Homo sapiens: one gene and its partners. The protein of the gene in region 6 purifies or fractionates together with the protein of the main gene of each other region. This does not show direct contact. Each region holds a gene or a part of one and is shown on either strand. Other genes may lie near its edges.

Evidence for each region.
Region 1: the proteins of ANKRD28 (region 6) and PPIP5K2 purify together in Homo sapiens (affinity purification with mass spectrometry; one large-scale study listed by BioGRID and IntAct). This does not show direct contact.
Region 2: the proteins of ANKRD28 (region 6) and RAB40C purify together in Homo sapiens (affinity purification with western blotting; one study listed by BioGRID). This does not show direct contact.
Region 3: the proteins of ANKRD28 (region 6) and ARHGAP29 fractionate together in Homo sapiens (co-fractionation; one large-scale study listed by BioGRID). This does not show direct contact.
Region 4: the proteins of ANKRD28 (region 6) and PIP purify together in Homo sapiens (co-immunoprecipitation; one large-scale study listed by IntAct). This does not show direct contact.
Region 5: the proteins of ANKRD28 (region 6) and PLA2G4A fractionate together in Homo sapiens (co-fractionation; one large-scale study listed by BioGRID). This does not show direct contact.
Region 7: the proteins of ANKRD28 (region 6) and SNX18 purify together in Homo sapiens (affinity purification with mass spectrometry; one large-scale study listed by BioGRID and IntAct). This does not show direct contact.

The regions. Positions count from the first base shown.
Region 1 is NC_000005.10:103,172,301-103,175,800, reverse strand, and holds part of PPIP5K2 (inositol hexakisphosphate and diphosphoinositol-pentakisphosphate kinase 2), read right to left. Parts: intron 2,647-3,500; coding exon 2,519-2,646; intron 1,944-2,518; coding exon 1,829-1,943; intron 1-1,828. UniProt on the Homo sapiens protein: Bifunctional inositol kinase that acts in concert with the IP6K kinases IP6K1, IP6K2 and IP6K3 to synthesize the diphosphate group-containing inositol pyrophosphates diphosphoinositol pentakisphosphate, PP-InsP5, and bis-diphosphoinositol tetrakisphosphate, (PP)2-InsP4.
Region 2 is NC_000016.10:621,066-624,565, forward strand, and holds part of RAB40C (ras-related protein Rab-40C), read left to right. Parts: intron 1-3,500. UniProt on the Homo sapiens protein: RAB40C small GTPase acts as substrate-recognition component of the ECS(RAB40C) E3 ubiquitin ligase complex which mediates the ubiquitination and subsequent proteasomal degradation of target proteins.
Region 3 is NC_000001.11:94,231,085-94,234,584, forward strand, and holds part of ARHGAP29 (rho GTPase-activating protein 29), read right to left. Parts: intron 560-3,500; 5' UTR 528-559; coding exon 323-527; intron 1-322. UniProt on the Homo sapiens protein: GTPase activator for the Rho-type GTPases by converting them to an inactive GDP-bound state. Has strong activity toward RHOA, and weaker activity toward RAC1 and CDC42. May act as a specific effector of RAP2A to regulate Rho.
Region 4 is NC_000007.14:143,137,658-143,140,239, reverse strand, and holds the end of PIP (prolactin-inducible protein precursor), read right to left. Parts: intron 1,166-2,582; coding exon 1,051-1,165; intron 723-1,050; coding exon 598-722; 3' UTR 501-597; downstream 1-500.
Region 5 is NC_000001.11:186,835,449-186,838,948, forward strand, and holds part of PLA2G4A (cytosolic phospholipase A2), read left to right. Parts: intron 1-3,500. UniProt on the Homo sapiens protein: Has primarily calcium-dependent phospholipase and lysophospholipase activities, with a major role in membrane lipid remodeling and biosynthesis of lipid mediators of the inflammatory response.
Region 6 is NC_000003.12:15,791,480-15,794,979, forward strand, and holds part of ANKRD28 (serine/threonine-protein phosphatase 6 regulatory ankyrin repeat subunit A), read right to left. Parts: intron 1-3,500. UniProt on the Homo sapiens protein: Regulatory subunit of protein phosphatase 6 (PP6) that may be involved in the recognition of phosphoprotein substrates. Involved in the PP6-mediated dephosphorylation of NFKBIE opposing its degradation in response to TNF-alpha.
Region 7 is NC_000005.10:54,520,759-54,524,258, forward strand, and holds part of SNX18 (sorting nexin-18), read left to right. Parts: exon of another isoform or gene 1-288; intron 289-3,500.

The DNA of each region.
Region 1 (3,500 bases), on a different chromosome or scaffold from region 6:
CCCAAAAAACTCTAGATCCACAGCTACCACCCTAGTCCAAATGACATCTTTTTGGACCACTGTAATAATTTCCTAACTGGTTTCCTCATACCCACTTTCACCTATCTGCTGTCCACACAATAACCAAAGCCACCCATTTCCCTGCTTAAAACCTTTAAATGGCTTCCCAATCCAATTAGAATACAAGGCACTGGCTCTTCAACCATATCTGCTGTCATTTTATCCAATACTTACTACTATTCTCCAACTACAGGCTTTCTATCAGTTCCTATATTACTCATGATCTTTATACCCTCTATGTATGTCAAAAAGGACCATGTAAGAGATGTATCGCTCCTCTTCACAAACAATTCCATCAATACTACTGGATATACAAGCTTTTTTGCCTTGCTAATTAAGGGTCATTTTTTTTCCCACTAATCCACATACTTATGTAAGGATGTCACTTTTCTATTCTTTAGTGGGACAAAGAAGAAACAAAAAACCAGAAGAAAGAACATATGGATTTGGAATTTTAATTGGAACAGAACTTTGAAACACCCTTAGGATCACTTTGATAATAATTACTCTCAAGGACCAGTAATAAGATTGATTAGGAAACAGACCTATACCAAATCATCACTATATATGTCACTGCCCTTCTTTTAAAAGTACATTAAGAAAACAAAATTGAGTTTTCTTTTATAGATCACTTTCTACACAGACGTGCACAGATGCGTATACCAATATACGCACAGAAAAATAAAAGAACATTCTTATCTTTTGGCTAGTTTAGAGATGACTGATTTAGATGAGATTCTGGACTTCAAGTAGTATTACTCTATTACAGCATGGCACTGAGTGGAGGGGGTGGCACTGAGGGAGATGTGAATTGAGTTTTGTATGTGGGAAGAATACAAATTACTGTGGCAAATAGGTATCACTGTGGCAGATTTTGTCTTTTCCAAAGATGGCTGACATACACATTCAATGCTACATACTCTTCTTACAATAGGACAGGGACACTCAGCCCATCTGGTGCTGTGGGTTGTTTCCTCTCCTTCTGAACCTGGATGAACCTCTGTGATTGCCTCAACCAAGAGAGCGCAGCAGAAGTGATGCTACATGATTTTAGAAGTTAGGTCATAAAAATGCCATGCACTTGCACCTTGCTCTCATAGGAAGCTCACTCCTGGAACTCAGGTGCAATATTTTGAGGAAGCAGGCCACATGAAGAGGCCAGATGTAGGTGTTCTGCTTGATAACCGCAGCTGAGGTCCCAGCTGACAGCCAACATGAAGCACCAAACATGAGAGAAAACCCTTGAGATTATTTGAGACCCAGCCACTGTCTGACTACAACCTCATGAGACTCTAAGAGAAACTTCATAATTGATCCTAGTCAACAATCTAAACTGTATGAGATAAAAATGAAATGACTGTGGTTGTTTTAAGCCACTAAGTCTTGGTATGTCATTACGTAATAGTAGATAATAGTAGATAGTACATAATAGTAGATCAGTGGTACAATGTCTAACCAAACACCAAGTTCCATCAATTCTGACCCCTAAATGACTCAAATTCATCAGGCTACTCTTTACTGCCACCAGTCTATAAAATCACCTAAAATACTTTATATTATTGTTTGCTTAAATGTATCTTCTCTGAAGAGAACATCTTTATCCCTAAAATCTAGCAAAATGCTTGGTATATAGTAGTCCCTTGAAAGACGACATTAAGTAGTAAAACTTAAGGATGAATTACTAAAATTTCACAGTAAAAATAGCAGTTAGTGATTTAATTACAAAATTAAATATATTTGTTAGACTGAAATAACTTATTCTACTTACATTGCATAAGGCACCATAGCGAAGAATAGACAGCAAAGAATGTACATGACTTTCACTGGTAAAATATAATCTAGTACGAACATGACGTTCAGGAGACAGAACACCTCTAGAATACCTAAAATTAGAAGCAGACAGTGTTCAAACATAACCATATAATCAAAAACTCACTAAATATTGAAATTATTTTCTAAAATTAAATGTAATTTCACTAGAAGTAAAAGACCACAAAAATCTATTATTCTTCCAACCACAATAGAGAATTTATCTTAGTATATATTCTTCTAACATGACACAAACTATAACTAACTAGGACCTCTGAGAGTAGTCAAAGAATAGACTTAATATTAGTCAAGTACACTGTAAATAGGTTATTTTATCTCCTTTAGTAGCAATGACAGAGGTTATAGACCTAAAGATGCTCACAGACATTAATGCTGCTAAATGGGGTACACATTGATGGTCCATGTGAACGATGACCTATATTCCCTTTTCCCCACTCACCTTAGTTTTCTCTAAAGTGGAGCCAAAAATAACTTTGGTTGGAACTTAATAGAAATACCTAGGTAATACTATTTTCACAGTATGCCAATGACACACTTCTGACTTCATAGGACCATCAAAGTATAATTTAAATTTGAAGTATGCAAAAATAGATGCCTAGAGATTTAAATAACCAGTACAGTTTCTTACACAGGATGAAGTTTATTTACAGTGTCATCATCTTGTGTCCTCTGAAGGTCTGAGCGAATTTTTCTAACCAGAGGAGTACAGTAGCCTTTGGCAATCTCCAGTTTTTCAGCTTTAGTTATACCATATTCCTGAGCAAAAAATACATGACATTAGAAAAAGGATATAATGACAAAGTACTCTAAAAAAATACACTCCTAAATTAGTCTAGTGAGAGACAAATATTTTATCAAGCCTTTTTTGAACGTTGGATAACTCCGAGTTTGCATTTTTTGCAACTGCAAATGTATGATTTTCAAACTATTAAGTATAATTGGAAGGATTTTGTGGTGGAACTGAACAAAAGCCAGTAATTTCTGAAGGCGGAGAATGAATGGGTGAATGTAATTTTTATGACTAGTATTCACTAAATCAGTGGTTTTAAATGTAAAAACAACCCTAAAAGAAAGGTGGATTAAGGCCACAAACACTAAAGCACAATATGTAATAAATATATGAAAAAAATTAAACCTTGAGATTTCTGTTTTTCCAAATGTCAAAGATTTAAAAGACTAACACATTCTTCAAAAGGCTTTGGCCAATATTTTTAAAGTTTTAACTGGAAGTGAGCAAAGATTCCATGAAATTATCAAATTTAATGACATAATCATTATGAGTTAATTGGATTTGTAAGGAATTAGCACAATGTGAAGTGTCCAGAAAACATGGCAATTTTAAGAGTAATTGCAATGAAAATTATAGTTCAAAGCAGTAGAAGAGGAGAAAGGAAGAAGGCAGAAAAGTGGGGGTAGAGTGGGAAAGAGGGAGAAAAGGGAAGAGGAAAGAAACACATATACCTTCTCTCTCCAAGTTCATTCTAGGATATTTCAACTTAAAGGCTATTTCCTGCTACTAGATACCTCCAGAAAGATTCACATGGAATAACATCAGTACAGACAATAGATCTCAAAACTGCCTAATAAAGAAAATGCTGACTGATTACAGA
Region 2 (3,500 bases), on a different chromosome or scaffold from region 6:
AACTCTGGAAATTCTGAGCTGTCATTTTCCACATGCGAGGAGCAGGTTACAGACCCAGGTGCACATGTTGGTCCTGGGTTGAGGGTGCCAGGTGCTTCCTTGCCCCGGGAGAAGCACCTGAGTCTCCAGGCGGGCCTCTGACCGCCGTGACTGAGCATTTGGGCCACCCCGGGAGCCCAGCCCTGTCCTGTGTCTCTCCTGCCTGGTGAGCAGCGGTGAGGTGCGGGTGCATCCAGCCGAGGTGCAGAGCCCAGGTTTGCAGCAGGGTTTCTCCCGCCGCCCCTGATGAGACACAGACTAGCAAGGACTGTCTGTCCCAGCCGGGATTTGTCACTCTGCCTCCCTCCGTTAGAGAGTGGAGAGGCCTGGAAGGTCCCCGCGGCCTGGGTCTTGCAGATGGCACCAGCAAAGGCCACCGGCCACTCCCCGCTGCCGTCACCTGTCACACAGCAGCAGTCCCGCGGCTCTTCCCGCGAGGCCCTTCACGTGCCGCCGAAGGCCGGGCTCCCTAGACTTCATGGTCGTGTTTGCATATTCTGTTGCTGTGATCTGAGACGGCCCCTCTCAGAAGCGGGTGCCACAACCCGCTGGTGGGATGAGTGGGTCACCCAGGTGCAGGTCCCTTGGTGTGTGGAGGGTGGGGTAGGCTCCTTGTAACTGCAGTGTGGCTGACGGGATGTGCCATCCTGTTTAGCTGAGAATTTGGGGTCAGCGGGCTTAGTGCCAGGAAGGCTGTGGCCAAGTGCCATGTCTGCTTCAGGACAAAGGTGTGGATTTGTTTCCCTGAGAGGGGGTTTATGTGGAGCGTGGTACGGGAGGCACACGTGCTGCTGGCTTGTCGGCACACAGGTGGGCGGGTGGATGTGAGTGGGCGCGGCTTGGCAGTAGCTCCCATTTTACATGTCAGTTGCTCCTGGGCAGAGCCTGGGTGCAGGGATGCAGGAGGAGGGCTTCACTCTCGCTGGCTGTACCTTGGGAGCTTCAGCCACATGGGTGGAAGGGGCATGTGTTTGTCAAAATTCATCAAAATGTTCAAACCTCGGATCTTTGTATTTTGTGCTTTGTAAGTTACAGCTCAGTAAAAAATGATAGCAAAAAGGACACCCACTCTTAGGCCCAGCAGTTCTACTTCTGGGAATTTATCGTGTAGGTCGAGTTGATCAAAAAAAGGTGTAAACGTGCTCAGATGCATATTGCCACCGTTACCCAAGAGCTGGCGCAGTACCAGTTCACGAGCAGGCGGGGGTGCTGGGCCTGAGCTCAGGGCGTGCGGGTGGGAGCAGCGCCAAGTGCCTCCACCCCCTTGACCCCGCCCGCGAGGCATGAGCGGCACCGTGGACACGTCTGTAGACGCTGAGGAAACTGACTGTCAGGGCGGCTCCTAGAGGGGCCTAGAGCAGGGCGAGCGCGCGTCCTGACTCATCCCCTAGAGCACTCGCTCGTTCTTTTGTTTTGTTTTTTGAGACACGGTCTGGCTCTGTCGCCAGGCTGGAGTGCCGTGGCGCGATCTCGGCTCACTGCAACCTCCGCCTCCCGGGTTCACGCCATTCTCCTGCCTCAGGCTCCCGAGTAGCTAGAACTAGGTGTGCACCACCGCGTCCAGCTAATTTTTGTATTTTTAGTAGAGACGGGGTTTCACCATGTTGGCCAGGATGGTCTCCATCTCTTGACCTCGTGATCCGCCTGCCTCGGCCTCCCAAAGTGCTGGGATCGCAGGCGTGAGCCACGGCGCCTGGCCGAAGTCGCTAGTTTTTTAAAAATCAGATCAGTTTTAGAAAACAGAAGGCAGTGGAAGAGTCTGTTTGTCCCGTGCTCTGCCCCTTGAGACACGCAGCTGAGGGTGCTTAGGGTGCCGTTCGTTAGGCGGCTGCTGGTCACCGAGAGTCTCCTTTTGGTTTCTCACTCCGTGGTCATTTGGGTCCCTGCGGCCTCACTGTGACCCACGCCGGAGCAAGCCTCCGGGTCCTCCTGTGCCATCGCCCCTGCCCGTAACCCCTACTCCTCAGACATGGCCATCCCAGGAAGTGGGGGCCCGCTCAGGGCAGCAGCCGGGAGGTGTGGCCAGGGCCCCCCGCGTCACAGCACACTTGGAGCCTGAGGCAGCCCATCAGCCGGGAGGCGGGCCTTCTGCTCTCTTTCTAGAGTTTTCAGTGTCATGCGAATAGGGGTGTTTGCCACAGAAAACAGGTCAGCATCAAAAGTTACCCCTCTCCAGCCTTTTAGCATTTGTTTTATGTCCATATAAACTTCTTCAGTGTAATGTGTTGTGTGTTCATACTTTTATTTTTTAAAAATCATGCTGGGCCGGGCGCGGTGGCTCACGCCTGTCATCCCAGCACTTTGGGAGGCCGAGGTGGGCAGATCGGGAGGTCAGGAGATCAAGACCATCCTGGCTAACACGGTGAAACCCTGTCTCTACTAAAAAAAAATACAAAAAAATTAGCCGGGCATGGTGGCGGGCGCCTGTAGTCCCAGCTACTCAGGAGACTGAGGCAGGAGAATGGCGTGAACCCGGAAGCGGAGATCGTGCGGCTGCACTCCAGCCTGGGCGACAGAGTGAGACTCCGTCTCAAAAAAAAAAAAAAAAGAAATCATGCTGGGCTGGGCACAGTGGCTCACACCTCTGATCCCAGCACTTTAGGAAGTTGAGGCAGGAGGATCACTTGAGGCCAGGGGTTCAAGACCAGCCTGGGCAACATAGCAAGATCCCATCTCTAAAAAATGTTTAAAAAAACTTAGCCAGATGTGGTGGTTCACACCTGTATTCCCAGCCACTCAGGAAGCTGAGGCTCAGAATATCAGGCTGCAGTGAGCCATGATCGTGCCACTGCATGAACCCCAGCCTGGCTGACAGAGTGAGACCCTGTTTCAAAAAAAAAGAAAATGCCATCCGCAGTGCTGGGACCTGCGTTCTTACCTCACCTGGGTTGCACATCTCTCCTTGGCCAGCATGCACGCTTTTACATGCACTGCTGCTGTCTTCAGCATCTGCACGGTACATTTCACTGCCGCTTACTCAGCTGTCCCCTGAGGCTGGACATTTAATTTGTGTCTGGCTTGTCGTTGTTATCAGCGCCACTGTGACACACATCCTCAGTTACTTCTGAGTTGTGGGCTTGCCATGCGGGAGGTTGCCATGCGGGAGGTTGCCACTAGGGAGAGTGGGCTGTGTTGTACGCTTTGGTGGCCCACTCCCCAGTCTCTCCACCTCCCCCAGCAGCAAATGAGCCAGCCCCAGTCCCTGTGCCCCAACCTCCAGGGTTAACCCCTGGGTGTGCATTTGTTTATTCTGAATCTTATCATTTATCGCCCACCAGACTGACTTGGCCATCTCTGGCCTCGAAGGGTCTCCCTCAGCGAGAGGTGTCCTTCCTGAGCTGTCGCTCCATCCTGAGCAAGGCCTTCGCCCTGGGAGCTTAGTAATGTCAACCTTGTTCTAAACAGGACCTGGGGCTACACTTCAGTCTTCCAGATATCGAAAGATGGTTCTAAGAGGCTCT
Region 3 (3,500 bases), on a different chromosome or scaffold from region 6:
CACTGTGTTACCATTAACAGAAAGGTTAAAATTCCAATGATGTCAAATTTTCCTACGTCAAATGGACCCAACCACAGGAATCAAAGATATTTTTCTTTTTTGTATTCTTATTCCCTCACACTGAAGTTTCTATTAGGTATTACACTATTATCTGATTATAAAATAGTTTACACTGTAACCATCAAAGATTTGGGGAAAAAAGCACTAAAATAACTAAAGCAGAATACCCTGTTCCTACCACTGTGTACAAACTTATCTGCTAGGCCAGCATTTAAAATTTTACAAACTATCCAGCAAGAATGCTAATAGAAAAGTGACAAACCTGAAAATATGGCTTCTTTCAAATATAGTAACATGTGGGAGAACTTCCTGATATCATTCACCAACTCCTTGATGTAATCCGGATCAAAAATAGAGTTGGAACTTAAGGACTTGAGCCCCATTTCAGAAGTTGTAATATCAGTAGAGAGTTGACCTGATGCCCAAGCACGTTTTTTCTTTGTCTTTTTCTGTTTGTGAGCAATCATCCTTTCATGTAACAGTCAGAAAAACTGAAATCCTTAAGGGGGCAAGAAACAAAACAAAAACAAGCGAGGAGAGAGAAAGAAACACAAAAACTAAATCAGCCAGGGAAATATTACACTAGATTTTCACAAACAGCCCACAGCTCACCTTGGTATCCTATTTTTAAATTTTTAAAAATCAAAAATCAATAATCAATCACTGTATTATTGATAATAGCAGTTTCCATTTATTAAATACCAGTAATTCCGACAACTCTGACATGCAAACTACTGTTCTTTACATTTCACAAATGAGGAACCTGAGGTTTAGAGGTTAAAAATTTGCCTTAAGCTCTCAACTGATAATGAACTAGGACTTAAACCTGTATCTGCCTTGATGCCAAAATCCATGCTCTTAATAACTTCCTCTTGATTCCTAGGGTATAGAATTTTATTTAATTGTAAAAGTTGTTCTGAAACATCACTTAGTAGAAGGTCATATTCTCCTTCCATGACATCACCTTCAAAAATAAAGATGAGATATGGGCTTTGAAAAAAGAAATACCTGTTCTTAAAATCCTCCTCTGTCACTTATTGTATGATCTATTCATCTCTTTACTTCAGTATGCTCATTTATAAAATGGGAGTAACATCCTGACAACACCTATCTCATGAGATTGTAGGGATTACATGACGCGATGATACAGAAGTGTCGAGAACATAGAAGTTCAATTACAGTTAGTTTTTCCTAATAATGCATATACATACATATACACAGACACACACACACAACACATCCTGGATTACCAAGTCTCATCAAGGATATTTCTTTGTTGAAAATAAGTTACAAGGGTGCCCACTAATCTGACATACTCTGACTGGTTAAATAAACACGTGTGATCATCAGAGCAATATTTTTGATAATCTCAGGATGGTAGTAAAAAGGTAATCTTTTGGTATGAGAAGAATTTAGATTTGAATCCTGGCTCTAGTATTTTCTAGATATGTGACCAGTACAATTTATTTACAGGCTTGTGTGAGGATGAAAAGGGATCACAAAATTAGAAGACTTCATATGTTAAAACACCTAATACTGGCACATAGCTGGAACTCAAGAAAATCATAGTTATTTTCTTCTTCACCCTCATTTTACCTTTCCAGAGTTAAAAGTTCTAATCTTGTTTGTATCTCTGGAAATCAAAAAGGAAATAACCGGAGGAATTAAATTAACTCACACTTTATTATTAACACTTTTTTTCAAGTATTTTGTCTTGAATATTTGGCTACTTTAAAAATGGTAGATGACTAAGGACTTCTATAAAATTTACAGTAGAAAGTTTTTTGGTTTTTTTTTTTTTTGGAGGGGGGAAGGGTTGAGTCTGGGTCTCACGCTATCACCCAGGTTGGAGTGCAGTGGTGTGATTATAGCTCACTGCAGCCTCAAACTCCTGGGCTCGGGCCATCTGCCCGCCAAAGCCACCCATGTAGCTGGGACTCCAGGGGCACAACACCACACCTAGCTAGCTAAAAAAAAAATTTTTTTTTTGTAGAGATACAGTTTCACTATGTTGCCCAGGTTGGTCTCAAACTCCTGGGCTCAAGTGATCCTCCTACCTCAGCCTAGCTAAATGCTGGGATTACAAGCATGAGCCACCATGCCTGGCCCACTAGGAAGTTTTATGTAATATCCGTTTCTAGTCATATGTAAGATACATTATTGTATCATTTACTCCTTCCTATATCTCACCCAACTCCATAGTTCATTTTTCTTTCTGATCTACAGGGTTCTCTAATCAACCCACTTCTCTCTACTGCTACCACACTAGTGAATTACCATCATTTCTTTTCTGAGCTACTATACTACTTTCCTAATGATCTATCTGCATCCATTCTTGTCTCATCACAAATGTAGTGAGTGAACATTTCAAACATAAATCTCATAATGTCATTTCTCTACTGAAAACCCTTCCAAAGTATAAGTGAGAAGCTATCATGCTCTACAAGGCTCAACATGAGATCTGGCTCCTACCTACCTGTGCAATGTCATATGGAGACACACCTGCTGGCTCTCAACACTCCTGCCACACACACCTCCTTCTCATTCTTCCAACAGTATTTGTTTACGATGACTCTCACCAGGAAATAATTTTACATAATAATACATGTTAAGTGTATTATGTTTGTGTGTGGCATGCTTCTGGGTAAGGCTCCATGGGATGTATGTGAGTTTTTAAAAATTCCATCCCATTTCATTTTTAAAAATGCTGGGTGCAACTCACCAACTTGGTTTCATACACATAATAGGTCATGACCCTACAGTTTGAAAAACACCAACTGTTCAGCTCAGGGTCCTGTCTATATGTAATTCTATTTGCCTGGAATATTCCTTCTCCTTTGTTTACTCACTCTGATCTCAGCTCAAAGCTTACCTCCTCAAAGAAACGTTCCTGGACCATCCCCATCCCCCAGCAAAACCACTACCATCAAACCAGAGTAGAATCTCCTGTGAGATGTTCCATAGTATCCTCTACTTTTCATCACTGCTCATACCACAGTTCAAATAGATCATGTCTTCCTAGCTAGAGTATAATCTCATGGAAATCAAGACCATGTATGTCTATTTGCTAACCATGTGTTCTCTGATCATAGCACAATGCTTGGCGTATGAGGAATGAACTACTTAGAACTATCTGCAGATAGGCTTATAAACTTATAAAGTTTCAATTAATTTTTATAGAAACAAAAATAACTCTGGGTTGTTGCAATGTTTTGAAGTGAAAATATAAATTTTTAAAAAACTCTCTAAAATGGTATGTTTCAAAAAGAAAAGTATATGAAGCTGAGGGAAGATTACATAAAACTGAAATCAAAGTTGGATTTCTATTATTGCTCCTCCTGATTATTAAACTGGGGACCACACTTTATAATTTTTAAAGTTTGTTTATTCACTGTCCTTTTGTCAATCTCAAATTATTTCTGAGAATCTAACTTCTACAT
Region 4 (2,582 bases), on a different chromosome or scaffold from region 6:
AGCCCCTCAGGGCTCCCTCTGCCCCTTTACTCCTCTATTATGCCTGAGCTCCTCAGGCAGAGCTGCACAGGACCCTGATATCCCTGAGTGTCACAATCCATTGAAAACAAGCAACAGAATAGCATAGAATGCTACTGCTCATTTAGGGGGCCATGGACTCCATCCCTGACTCTGCTGCATGCAACAGGACTCCTGTCTTCTGGGATCTGAGCTGTTGCTGGAGGGCAGTGGGATGGAGAGAGGTCAAGCAACAGGGAGGCTTGGTGCCTGCCCTGGCTCTGCCACTCCTGTGCCGTGAACTTTAGGGCCACTGCTTTTCCTCTCTGTGAGCATAGCTCCTCTTCCCAGTTTCTTCTTCTCTCCCTCTTCATACCAATGGGCAGTGAGAACCCGTACAATCTCCTCAGTAAAGGTTCTTTGAAAGACAAATGTTCTAGAAATTTCAGGTAATCTGGGGTTCTTCAGGAGCAGATTTTGGAGATACAACAGAACATGGAGAAGCATGTTAAGAAGTTTATTTTATAGACCACAGCAGAAATTCCAGCCAAGTTTCTTTAGAGGAAATCACCTGGGTGTGGCAAACAGACAGGGCTTCCATTATTCTACCTTTAGGATTTCAATAGTATAAAACCGGTTGTTTTTGATGGGGATTACAGCAGCATCATCAGGGCAGATGCCTAATTCCCGAATAACATCAACGACGGCTGCAATTTGCACAGTTCCTGAAAAAGACAGGGACGGAGATCATCTCTCAGACACCCCGGCCATGTCCTGTCTTTTCTACTCATATCAGGCATCTGCCCCCTGGGGTTCAGTTTCCCCAAATCCTTTGCAAATTTGTCTCCTGTATCAACTTTTTGCACTCAATGCCTCTGTCTTAGAACCTGGGTGCTTTCCCCATCTGCTCTCCCCATGCTCTTCCCTCCCTCCCTTCTGTCCTTCTGCCCTGAGGTCCTGGTCCTGCTCGGTTCGCAGCCATGTTTCTGTTTATAGTTTCTCCTCCCTGGTGGCTGGTGGGTAGTTCCCTCCTTGGACAACTTCTGTACTTACTGTTGGTGTAAAAGTCCCAGTAGAAGGTTTTTGGATTGTCGTCACATAGGCAGGCAGTATACTTATAGTTAAATGCACCTTGTAGAGGGATGCTGCTAATGAGGTAAGTTTTAACCTGGTGAGGAGAAGGTGGGAGGGGGAATTCATTGTTATTTTGGGGAATGGGTAAGGGAGGGAAAAATAGGAGAGGGAAAAGCCGGAGGAGAAGAGTGGGGGTGGAGGTGGGCCTAGGGCAAGGGGGAGTCTACTGTTGTAGTATCATTTCAGGAGCCAAAGTCTAGGTCAGAAGGTTTTCCCTTCCAATGCCCTCAAACTCCTGCCTTAGCAGTGTGGAGAAGCTCAGGAGGAGATAGGGATGCAAGTGAATCCACAGGGCAAGGAGAGCTCATCCAGGGCAGCTGTCCAGCTGAGGAGCAGGCTTGCCTTAGTCACCAGCCAGAGGTTTCAGGAATCGACCTGCAATCACGTTTACTCTGAGACCTGGTGAGACAGCAGCCTGGCCACTTGCGTGTAGGAGCCAATGTCAGGCCTTGTTGTCAGAGCTGTGACCAAGCCCCATCTGTGCTCCTCTCTGACTTGGTGACCTTTGGTGATGAGAGGCCTCTCACTCTCACTTTCCTCAGGTATGAGGTGGAAACAATTAACTACCAAACCTGGCTGTTAGATAAGCAAATAACATCTTGAATGTAAATTTCTTTTTAACTTGAGTGCTTTGCAATTCAAGATCCCAGATTATTGTATATATAAATTTCAGTGGAGTCAGAGGATTTTGTCCAGTTAACGTTTAACACAGCAGTTTTATCCTGGGGTCCATAGACCCAGAGGGATCTGTGGATAGCATTCAGTGAGTCTGTGGACTCAGGCAGGGGAAAAATATGCATCTTTATTACTAACCTCTAATTGAAATTCAGCATTCCTTCTGTTATGAATGTCATCAAGGAACCACAGTGCCATTAGCAGTATGTGTGATTTTATCACAAGGAGAAAAGTAGATATGTACATATCATTGCACGGATCCAGAGGTCCGAAATACAGCCTGAATGTACTACCTTGAATGTATGGCAGTTATCAGACTGGCTCATGGTCACGACTGAGGCCCAGTGCCATTCTGCCCACCTCCTGCAGCTTGCTCAGCTACCTGGCAACTCAGCATCAAGTAGCCGTTCAGACCTAAACAGTAAATTCAGGTGTTCTCACCCTTGGAGTTTTACTCAGAATGCCTTGGAGAATCCTGGCGTTTCTTTGGAGAAGACTACCTGTGCCTTGTTTCCCTTTTTTTTTTTTTTCTAAGAGACAGAGTCTCACTCTGTTGCCCAGGCTGGAGTGCAATGGTGCGAACGTGGCTCACTGCAACCTCCGCCTCCCAGGTTCAAGTGATTCTTCTGCCTCAGCCTCCTGAGTAGCTGGGATTACAGGTGCGTGCTACCAGCCCTGGCTAATTTTTGTATTTTTAGTAGAGACAGGGTTTCACCATGTTGGCCAAGCTGGTCTCGAACTCCTGACCTCAGGTGATCTGCCCACTTTGGCCTCCC
Region 5 (3,500 bases), on a different chromosome or scaffold from region 6:
TATTGAAAAGCAATCAGGGAAAAGTGTCTAAAGATGCACACAGTTATGGGATCATTCTGTATAGACTGCTGCGTCTATCATTATGATTTCTTAATATCCATTAGCCACTGTTGTGTCTACCACAAACCTCAAACAGGTTATCAACTTTCTTTTCATTCAACTGCCATGAAGAAGAGGTGGATGAATTTTAAATTTGCTGACGTCATGAACTTAGATCTCAAAGAGAGAACACTAGGAAATTTCTGTAGTTCACTTTCAATGATCAATGGTAATACATGTTCAGATAATAACTTTAAAATACTGTTATATCCCTGGTTCTTAGAAGACAATGCCACTAACCCATTTTAGAAAGATTTGTCACAGCAGCGATTCTAATTTAAAAGAGGCTTCTTGGTAAATTAAAGATTTAATTGCAAATCTGTTGGATGCTTACTTATAATCTATTACTTGGTACTTAATTTTTGAGCTGGTGACAACCAGAGATTTACATTTTATATATATAAAGCTTCACAATATTTACATGCATTTTTTCCCTCTCACCTTTATTACTTTCTGTAATGATGCCTTTGTTGTCAATGAAAAGCAATAAAAGAAAGAATCAAATTTGTGACACTCATTCACTGTTTGCAGAAATTGTTACAATCTGTTTAAAATATGTTTTAGGTTGACAAATTTGATTTGGTTGATCAATATATTATGTATTAATAAGTATTAATAAGCTATTTATATGAATTAATACCCCAGTATTAATATATAGCCTATGCATTAATATAATTAATAATCAATATGAATTAATTCAGGTAAATCATTAGTTATTCAATACACCATATATTACATATAATATACCTTAATAATAATATTGATTGTTATTATATATTAATATGTACATAAGATATTAATCAACCAAGCCAATTGTCAATCTAAGATGTAATTTAAACAGATAACAAGAATCTTCAAGCACTTTTTATCATCACAATGAAAAGGATGCTCTCATATAAATTTTAAGTTTCTGTGAAAAAATAATTTCTATATACCATTTTATTAATACATATAGTATACTTAGAAAAGTAGTAGGAGTAGGAAAATGCAATTTTTTAATACTTAGAAAAAGAACAGGTATTGTATGAAGCTATTTAGATAATATCTACTCTTCTTTTTCACTTACCAATTTTGCCTCCTATGTCAAGAAATGCAGATGTTAATGTCAATCAGGAATTGTTGGTCACTGAGCAGTATGCATTTATTCCTTCGCTAATTCAGTCAGTTTTAATTAATAACAGCTACATGCTAGGTACTGTGCTACATTTAGGGCATACCTGGGTGAATAAAGCAGGTATAGTTCATTCCGTCTTAGTGGAGACAGATAATAAGTATACAAACAAACAGATAATAAATTATAAAAGAAAGCAAATGGGCTTCAATGATAGAGAATAACATGCAAAGGCGGAGAATGGGAAGGGCTCTCTGAGGCATAGAATTGAAGCACAGATGTGACGGATAAAAAGCCATCTACGGGAGGCGGTAAGTAGAGTGAGAATGGCAAGGCTCACGCTAGAGTTCCAGGCAGAGAGTGGCATTCGTTAATGAGCCTGCAAAGAAGCAACTAAGAAACTAGATGGAAAACCAGGTATTAGGGTGATGTTGTGGGAGCAAAGGAGGGAAAGTGGTTCTAGAGGAAAGAGGTTGAATAAGATGACGACGGAAAAGTGATTACTACATTTGGAAATTTGGAGATCATGAATGATCTTGATTAGTGCAGGTTCAATGGAGTGGTGGGAGTAGACAGAAGAAGGAAGAAGGAATTTACAAATGGGATGGGAGGAATGCGTGATGAGGATAGCTGGCTCCTGGATACAGGGTAAGCAAATAACCCTTCAGAGAAGTCTGTCAGTGAAACACAGCAACCAAATGGAGACATAGCAGGGAAAAGGAATATGGAGTCGACAGACAGACTGTAACAAGTTTGCCAATTAGATTATCCAGTTGAAAGTAAAATTTGGGCCAGGCTCAGTGGCTCACTCCTGTAATCACAGCACTTTGGGAGGCCGAGGCAGGCGGATCACGAGGTCAGGAGATCAAGACCATCCTGGCTCACACGGTGAAACCCCATCTGTACTAAAAAAAAAAAAATACAAAAAATTAGCCGGGCGTGGTGGCGGGCGCCTGTAGTCCCAGCTACTTGGAAGGCTGAGGCAGGAGAATGGCGTGAACCCAGGAGGCGGAGCTTGCAGTGAGCCGAGATCGCGCCACTGCACTCCAGCCTGGGCGACAGAGAGAGACTCCGTCTCAAAAAAAAAAAAAAAAGAAAAAGAAAAGAAAAAAAGAAAATAAAGGAAAGTAAAATTTGATGATTCAGGAAAGAGAGACGTGACCATCAAAAATAAAGTCCTTGAGGAGAGGGATTTTGCATCCAGAGAGCCATGGTGGTGCCAGGTCTGTAACAGTAGGAGGAACATTGCCTCCTTTGTGGCAGGGAGAAGGGGAACCCAAGTGCACCTGCAGGGAAATACGCAGATTTGATGGTGGGAAGATGAGAAACTTCCCTCTGGTGCTTTCTGCTTTCTCAGTGAAGGAAGATGAGGTCGCCTGCTAAGAGTGGGAGTTGGGGTGGGGTGAGAAACTTGAGTGAGAGAAGGGAATAAAGTGACTTTTTCCGGTGGGAATACAAGTCCACCAAAGAAATTTAGAAAGATGTCTTGTAGTGTAGAGAACCTCTGTGGGTTTTGAGAATATGGACTTAAATTAAAACTAGCCTTCCAGGGTATGTTGTTTTTCTGCAACATGTTTAAATGCTAAGAGCAAAGAAGCTAGATGGTTTCTCTAGAGTGGGAGTTTTTAAAGACAGAAAGAAAAATTGTTTTTAAAGACAGAAAGAAAAATCCATAAAATGGATAACCAGTGCACTAAGCAAAACAAAATAAAAAACAACCCAAACCAAAACCAAATCTAAACAAAAATTCATAAAAATGAATGAGTCTGTAGAACAGAGTTCCTTTATCTAAGGTAATTAGTGACTACTAGGAAGTAGTCCAAAATTGGCTGATTTCCAGCTCTAGTAGGTGGGAATTTAGCCTTTGTTCTTTCCCAACTCTTGGATTCATTACCTAGCCAGTTGCTAGGCCTCTTTGTACACTTCAGTGAAGCCCAGTTACCTGTTCCAGGAGCCATCATTCTGGAACCTTTTTTTTCTTCATGTTCTAGTTGGTAGACTTGTTGCTGTTGTCCTTTGAAGTTCTGAATGATTAACTGTTTGCCTCCCTGCTTTTATTGGACTCCTAGCTAAGTACTTGTTTCTGAGTTGTAGCATACTCCTTGGTCTTTGTGCTCCCTAAGATAAGGGTTTATAGACTTCGAATCATTAGAATTCCACAATGTAAAGATGTGTAAAACATTTTGTGATAATAATAGACCATCCAAAAAAAGGATCTTTCACAGCCCTGCTCTCAGGATGTATTTCTTCACCCTGACATAAATCTTTCATTTTGCATCTAAAAGTCACT
Region 6 (3,500 bases):
TTTTTGACAAAGGTGCCAAGAACATACACTGGGAAAAGACAAGTCTCTTTAATAAATGGTGCTGGGAAACTGGATAAACACATGCAAAATCATGAAACCAGACCCCTATCTCTTGCCATATACAAAATTCAAATCAAAATGCATTAAATACTTCAAACTGAATCTAATACAAGAAAACACTGGGGAAAATCTCCAGGACATTAGTCTGAGCAAATATTTCTTGAGCAATAGCCCACAAGCACAGGCAACCAAAGCAAACATGGACAAATGGGATCACATCAAGTTAAAAAGCTTCTGCACAGCAAAGGAAGTAATCAACAAAGTGAAGAGACAACCCACAGAACGAGAGAAAACATTTGCAAACTACCCCTCTGACAGGGGACTAATAACCAGAATATAAGGAGCTCAAACAACTCTACAGGAAAAAACCTAATAATCTGATAAAAAATGGGCAAAAGATCTGAATAGACATTCCTCAAAAGAAGACACACAAATGGTGAAAAGGTTCTCAACATCACTAATCATCAGATATCCAAAACTCAATGAGATATCATCTTGTCCCAGTTAAAATGCCTTTTATCCAAAAGTCAGGCAGTAACAAATGCTGGTGAGGATGTAAAGAAAAGGGAACCCTTGTTCACCATTGGTGGGAATGTACAACCACTACGGAGAACAGTTTGGAGGTCCCCCAAAAAACTAAAAATAGAGCTACCATATGATCGAGCAATTCCACTGCTGGGTATATATCCAAAATAAAGGAAATCAGTGTATCGAAGAGATCTGCACTCCTATGTTTGTTGCAGCACTGTTTACAATAGCTAACATTTGGAGGCAACCTAAGTGTCCATCAACAGATGAATGGATAATGAAAATGTGGTACATACACACAATGGAGTACTCGTCAGCCATAAAAAAACAGACCCAGTCATTTGCAACAACAGGGATAGAATTGGAGATCATTATGTTAACCGAAATAAGGCAGGCACAGAAAAACAAACATCACATGTTCTCACTTACTTGTGGGATCTGAACATCAAATCAACTGAATTCATGGACATAACAGAAGGATGGTTACCAGAGGCTGGGAAGGGTAATGGGGGGTTGAGTGGGAGGTGGGGATGGTTAATGGGTACAAAAAAATAGAATAAGACCTACTATTTGATAGCACAATAGGGTGACTATAGTCAATAATAACTTAATTGTATATTTTAAAATAACTTAAATAATGTAATTGGAATGTTTGTAACTCAAAGGATAAATGCTTGAGGGGATGAATACCTAATTCTTCATGATATGATTATTTCACATTACATGCCTGTACCAAAACATCCCATGTACCCCATAAATATAGACACCTATTATGTACCCACAAATTTTTTTTAAAACCCACTAAAATAAGAAGAAAAATCTATTAGGTGTGTTACTAAGAAACGTGCTGTTTAGTGGTCTACAATATTCAAAACCTCAGGGTGTGACTAAAGAAACTCATCTAAAATTATACAATGACTATTTAATGGTAGAGAAATAAATCTGAACTTATATCCATTCTAAAAATGAATAAAAACAACTTCAAAAAACTTAAGAGAAACCTGAGTTTCAAAAAGTCCAACGTTATTCTCCAAATACTTATTTAAATAAATTTACTTTGGAAAAACACGACTGTCACACTGACATAAAGCTTAAAAATATTTTATTACCTATTAAAAGTCAGTGCATTTAACACCCATTGCCTTTTAAAACCCCATATGATTCCTTATCAGACAAAATCAGATGATATTTACCATCTTAAATTCAAATAATGGCCAAAAAGTTAACAAATCTTGACTTTAAGGCAACACTCTCAACTACTAAGAAAGGGTCACGAGAGAAAAGGCCTAAAAGCAATCATAAAAGTTGTTGTCAAAAACCTTTGTATCACTGAAGACAATTGTCAAAGAGTTACTCTCAAGAAAGGCCTACTGATGAGTGAGCTGATGCTCTCAATGACTCTGAATTTTTTTTTAATTTAGGATAAATTGATTAAATATAACATAAAAGTAATGTCAGCTACAATAAACTTTGTAATGATGGAGAAATTAGCCCTGGTAAATGGAATTATAGTTCAAACTTTCTAATCAAGGTAGTATTTGTCAGTACTATTAAAATAAAACCAAAATAACAAGAAAACCTTAGGAGTTAAATGGAAAACATGTTTTCCACCTTTTCATGCGTCTATACCCCTTGAGCTATTTTCTAAGAAACGCATACTCTTCAGTATACCCTGGGTAAAGTAGCCAGACACTTCATTTAAAACAAATAAATCATGGCCCGGCACAGTGCCTCACGCCTGTAATCCCAGCACTTTGGGAGGCCAAGGCGGGCCGATCACCTGAGATCAGGAGTTTGAGACCAGCCTGGCCAACATGGTGAATGAAACCCTGTCTCTACTAAAAACACAAAAATTAATCGGGCGTGGTGGCAGGTGCCTGTAATCCCAGCTACTTGGGAGGTTGAGGCAGGAGAATCGCTTGAACCCGGGAGGCAGAGGTTGCAGTGAGCGGAGATCATGCCACTACACTCCAGCCTGGGCAACAGAGCCAGACTCTGTCTCTAAATAAATACATACATACATACATACATAAATCCTGAATTAGGTGCATGTTTCCAACTAAATATAAACTTGAAGGCAATTCACTTAGAAAAAATTTTAAAAAATATATAATGATAGCATTCTGTTCATTACCCAATGTTAAAATTAACAACAGTTTTAGCCAATGATTCAAATCTATTCAGATAATTCATTATTTTAAAAATAAGGTAAAACTTTTTTGTATCTACCTAACATTAAGTGGTCACAGCAGTATTATATTAAAAAAAAAAGGAGGAAAGATGAGAGTTAAAAATGAGCTTGCAATGGGTGCTTTCTTAAAACCACAATCATTTCTAGGTCATCTGTTTTGGTGTTGCCACAGCGACTTTGTGAATCATATGACTTTTCACCCCCTCCATAACTCAGGGGTACATTTGTTTCTGGTAAAAATATATACATTAGTGGATGTAATTTTGTTAGAGTACGTAATGTACTTTCAGCCACAACTTAGTAAACTAAATACTGGCCACTGAAAAAACATAACAGAGAGAGAAAATTATCCATATATCCACCTTTCTAAAACTGTCCATCATGTCAGCACTGAATATACTACTGTATCGTTAAGTCTGAAAACTTTTCCAACAATGACTTTACTGAAAACCTAATCTGACAAAAATTAATCAAGCACCATTGTAAAACACTCACCATGATTATTTACAAAAAGCAAATCTGATCTTATATTTAGATATACACTTACAAGAATCCTCATTTGAAATGCACAGTTAAGTATTTAATGGTGAAGTATCATGATTTCTGCAACTTACTACATATATATGTAAAAGTTGTATATTAATAAATACAGAAAGCAAATGTGGCAAAATGTTATCAATGCCAAAAGTAAGTGAAAGGTATATGGGTAGTCAGCATGTTT
Region 7 (3,500 bases), on a different chromosome or scaffold from region 6:
TTCCCCTTCCAAATGCGTGACTGGTCTTCTGACTCCTATGGGGGAAGGGGCTTGCTGGGAGAATGATCAAACGTTTTCAGTCTTGTTGCTGCCGCTGAAAGGGAGTACCCTGGACATCAGTACTAATTTTAGTAGACAGTAGTAACTTTCTTGGCAATTTGCGATTTGTAAATGCAGTCTAATATTGAATTCGTTTTTTGTGCAATCATATTGCTGTTGGCCTGTATTAAACCTGTATTTACATTACCTATGCCTTTTTTTAAAACATAAATTGTTATGAATCTTTGACTTTTTTGACTGGTGTTGGTGGAACTGCCTTTGTGAGCCTTTAATGGAGGGATTTAGCATTTAAATTCCATTGTGTTACATCATTCTGGACCTATGCTGGCTGCCCTTTTACACATTTCTGTGAGTTTGTGCAAATTACTGGTGAACAGTTGAAAGGATGGAACCAAGTACAGACACTTGGACATGTGTGCTGGGCCGCTGGTGTCTGTCTACTTTAGGTTGGCATCAGTTCATTCACTGTCAATCACACCATGCACTCAGGCTTTGTCAAATGGCCTGCTTTTGAAATTATATATTAGAAAAGGTATGGTGTGTGTTCTAATATCTATTTTGAGTTTACAGCAATGGTCTACTTAGTCTATTAAACCATCTGGTTATGGCCAGGGTCACGCCTGTAATCCCAGCATTTTGGGAGGTCGAGGCAGGAGGATTGCCTTAAGGCCAGGAGTTCGAGACCAGCCTGGGCAACATAGGGAGACTCCCTTGTCTACAAAAAATAAAGAAGTTAGCGTGGCATGGTGGCTCATACCTATAGTCCTAGCTACTAGGGAGGCTGAGGCTGGAGGATTGCTTGAGGCTAGGAGTTAATTTGAGGTTGCAGTGAGGCATAATTGAACCATTGCCCTCCAGCTTGGGTGACAGAGCAAGACCCTGTGTCCAAAACAAAAAATATATAGCTTATTTACTTCTTTATTTATTTTGTAGAGACAGGTGTCTTGCTATGTTGCCCAGGCTTGTCTCTAACTCTTGGGCTCAAGCAATCCTTCCAGCTCAGCCTCCCGAAGTGCTGGGATTACAAGCGTGAACCACCATGCCCGGCCTAGTTTATCTTTTTTAAATTATAGAACTGGATTTGTCTCTAGTCACTTGGGATTTGAAAAACTTCCTTCATTAAAACCAGTATCATTTTATGTGGCTTAACAGATTCAAGAGCACTAAACATAATCTCTAGGAACTTTGGAAAGAACAGCAGTTGATATTCAGTATAGTTTGTTTCTGCTGTAACCTTGGTGTGTAATGTACAGTGAACCTGTGTCCCTGGATGACACATCTTTAGAAAATACTACCATTTAAAGTGACAGTGTGCGATACATAAGGCTAAAAGCATTTGCCTATAACCAGTGTTTATCAAGGATGCTAGTGTAGGCCATTTTTAGGAGTATAGATGAGACAAACATCATAAGCCAGGATAAAAGCTTTCTGAGCGTATTCAGGACTTGTGGTTGTAAAGAGCATCTCAATTCCGTCACCTCCCCAACCCCAACTGTTACACACTTGAAATATGGCTAATGTGACTAAGGAACTGAATATTGGTCAACAGAAATGATAGAACTTTTCCATCAGTGCTGAAAGTTCTATTGGACAGTGCTGTGTTAAACTGCTGGCTGCAGTTTAACTATCAACCCCATCGTAAGTTTCTCCAGCAAATTATTATATTTTAATATAGTTTCCTGATAGCTTTATTTTTACTTGGTCATCTCATTGCACCTCCTCCTTCCCATATAGGCTTAATTAATAAAAACTGGGAAGGGGGAAGCAAGTCCTGCTAGATTCTTCTTTGCTGAATTTCCCAAGCACTCAACCTGAGTGACATTTCAGTAGCGTGAGCATCTCTTGCAGTGTGCCTTTATGTCCCATTCAGAAAACACATTGGTTACGGGATGGATGTCTGAGGCCATCCTGGTGAGAACCCAGCTGCAAAATGAGGGTGGAAAACTCAAATACTCTTAAATGTTGGTGGGCTGAAATTTTCCTGACTATACTAAATACTGAACCCATTCTTTAAACTAATAATGGTTTTAGTGTACATACTTTCTGCAGAAGTGAAGAAAGCGATATACTTCCTTCAGCCAAAAGAGAATTCTGGAATTTTGATTTTTTTTCATCAACGGATGGAGTCTAACTATTTAGGTTAATGGAGTTGAGCGAAGAAAGACGGTAGTTTGCTGTAGTCTGCGGTACATTAGATGGGAATTCAGAATCTATTGGAATTTTATTTGTGTTTTGCTTTGACCTAATAGGAGTCCTTTAAGTTCTTTGTTCATAGGTAGCTCATCAATCCCTGACTAGGCAGTGTGCAGATGTTTGTCACTGACATGTAACCCCTGTGGTCTTGATTTTTTTTTTCTTAAGTGATAGCATTTTATCTTCTCCCTCCTTATCATGCCTGTCTGCAGTATACCTTTATAGTGTTGATGTTGAGGAGTTTGGGTAGTACTGAGGAATATATTTTATTATTAGTTTCTTGGCATATTCAGTTTTGTTTCCAAAGATATGATCAATCTCTAATATTTAATAAAGCTAAATCTAGGTGGCAGCAAGTTGAGGTTTAAAAGATTTAGGTTTACCTCTTGCGACTATTGCTAAAAGGAAGACTGTAAAAGATTATGAGAAATACTGGTTTCATCCTTGTTTAGGAATTTGGACTAAATAAAAATGGCTAGAGGGAGTTCCTTTAAGTGAAATGTCTTTCTTCTAGAGAAAAGGTGTAAAATAGTGTTAAATTGATTTGTCGATTTGGGCTGTGTGAAGCAGGGAGGCAGGACTAGATAAGTAAATAGGCAGTCCTGTTTTCTGTACTCTTAAATATACAGACTCTACTTCATCGCTCTCTAAATGTTCCAGATGGAGCCTTTTTTCAATAAAAGCCCCAGGACCTCAGGAATGGTATACCAGTAGTGGGCCTGTCAGTCTTGCTGGGTAGAATTTCACCATTGTGCTTCCTTTTACCACTAGTAGAGTTGGCCTGATGTCCTTCAGACATTAATTAAAGATAGCTGGAGTCCCAGCAGGGCACACAAGGTAAGGCTGGGCCACACGGAGACCCTTCCCTGTCTGCTCCCCATTCTCCTGTAGCTAAAAATAGCCCTGAAAGGGTGGTGCCAGGAATACAGAGAAAAGCTCTAAGAAGTTGGGGCTGTTTGCAAATTCATCCTTATTTTTGAAACCTCTGGGCTAGAAATTGAGGCTGTTCATTCTTTTTGTTTTCACTCCATCTTTAGTTGAACCCATTTCTCCTCTCCCCTGCATTTACCCCCAGCTGTTCTCTAAAAAGACCTCATGTCTCTAAAAAGAGAACAGGTCTGGGGCTTACCCTTTGCCCCAGTTTGTGTTTTCTTAGTGAAAATAAGGTGACCGTTGGTGCTTTCGAAATACACGACTCAGTTCCTTGGTTAAAATATAAATGTGACTGCCCAAGGACAGTCTTGGGC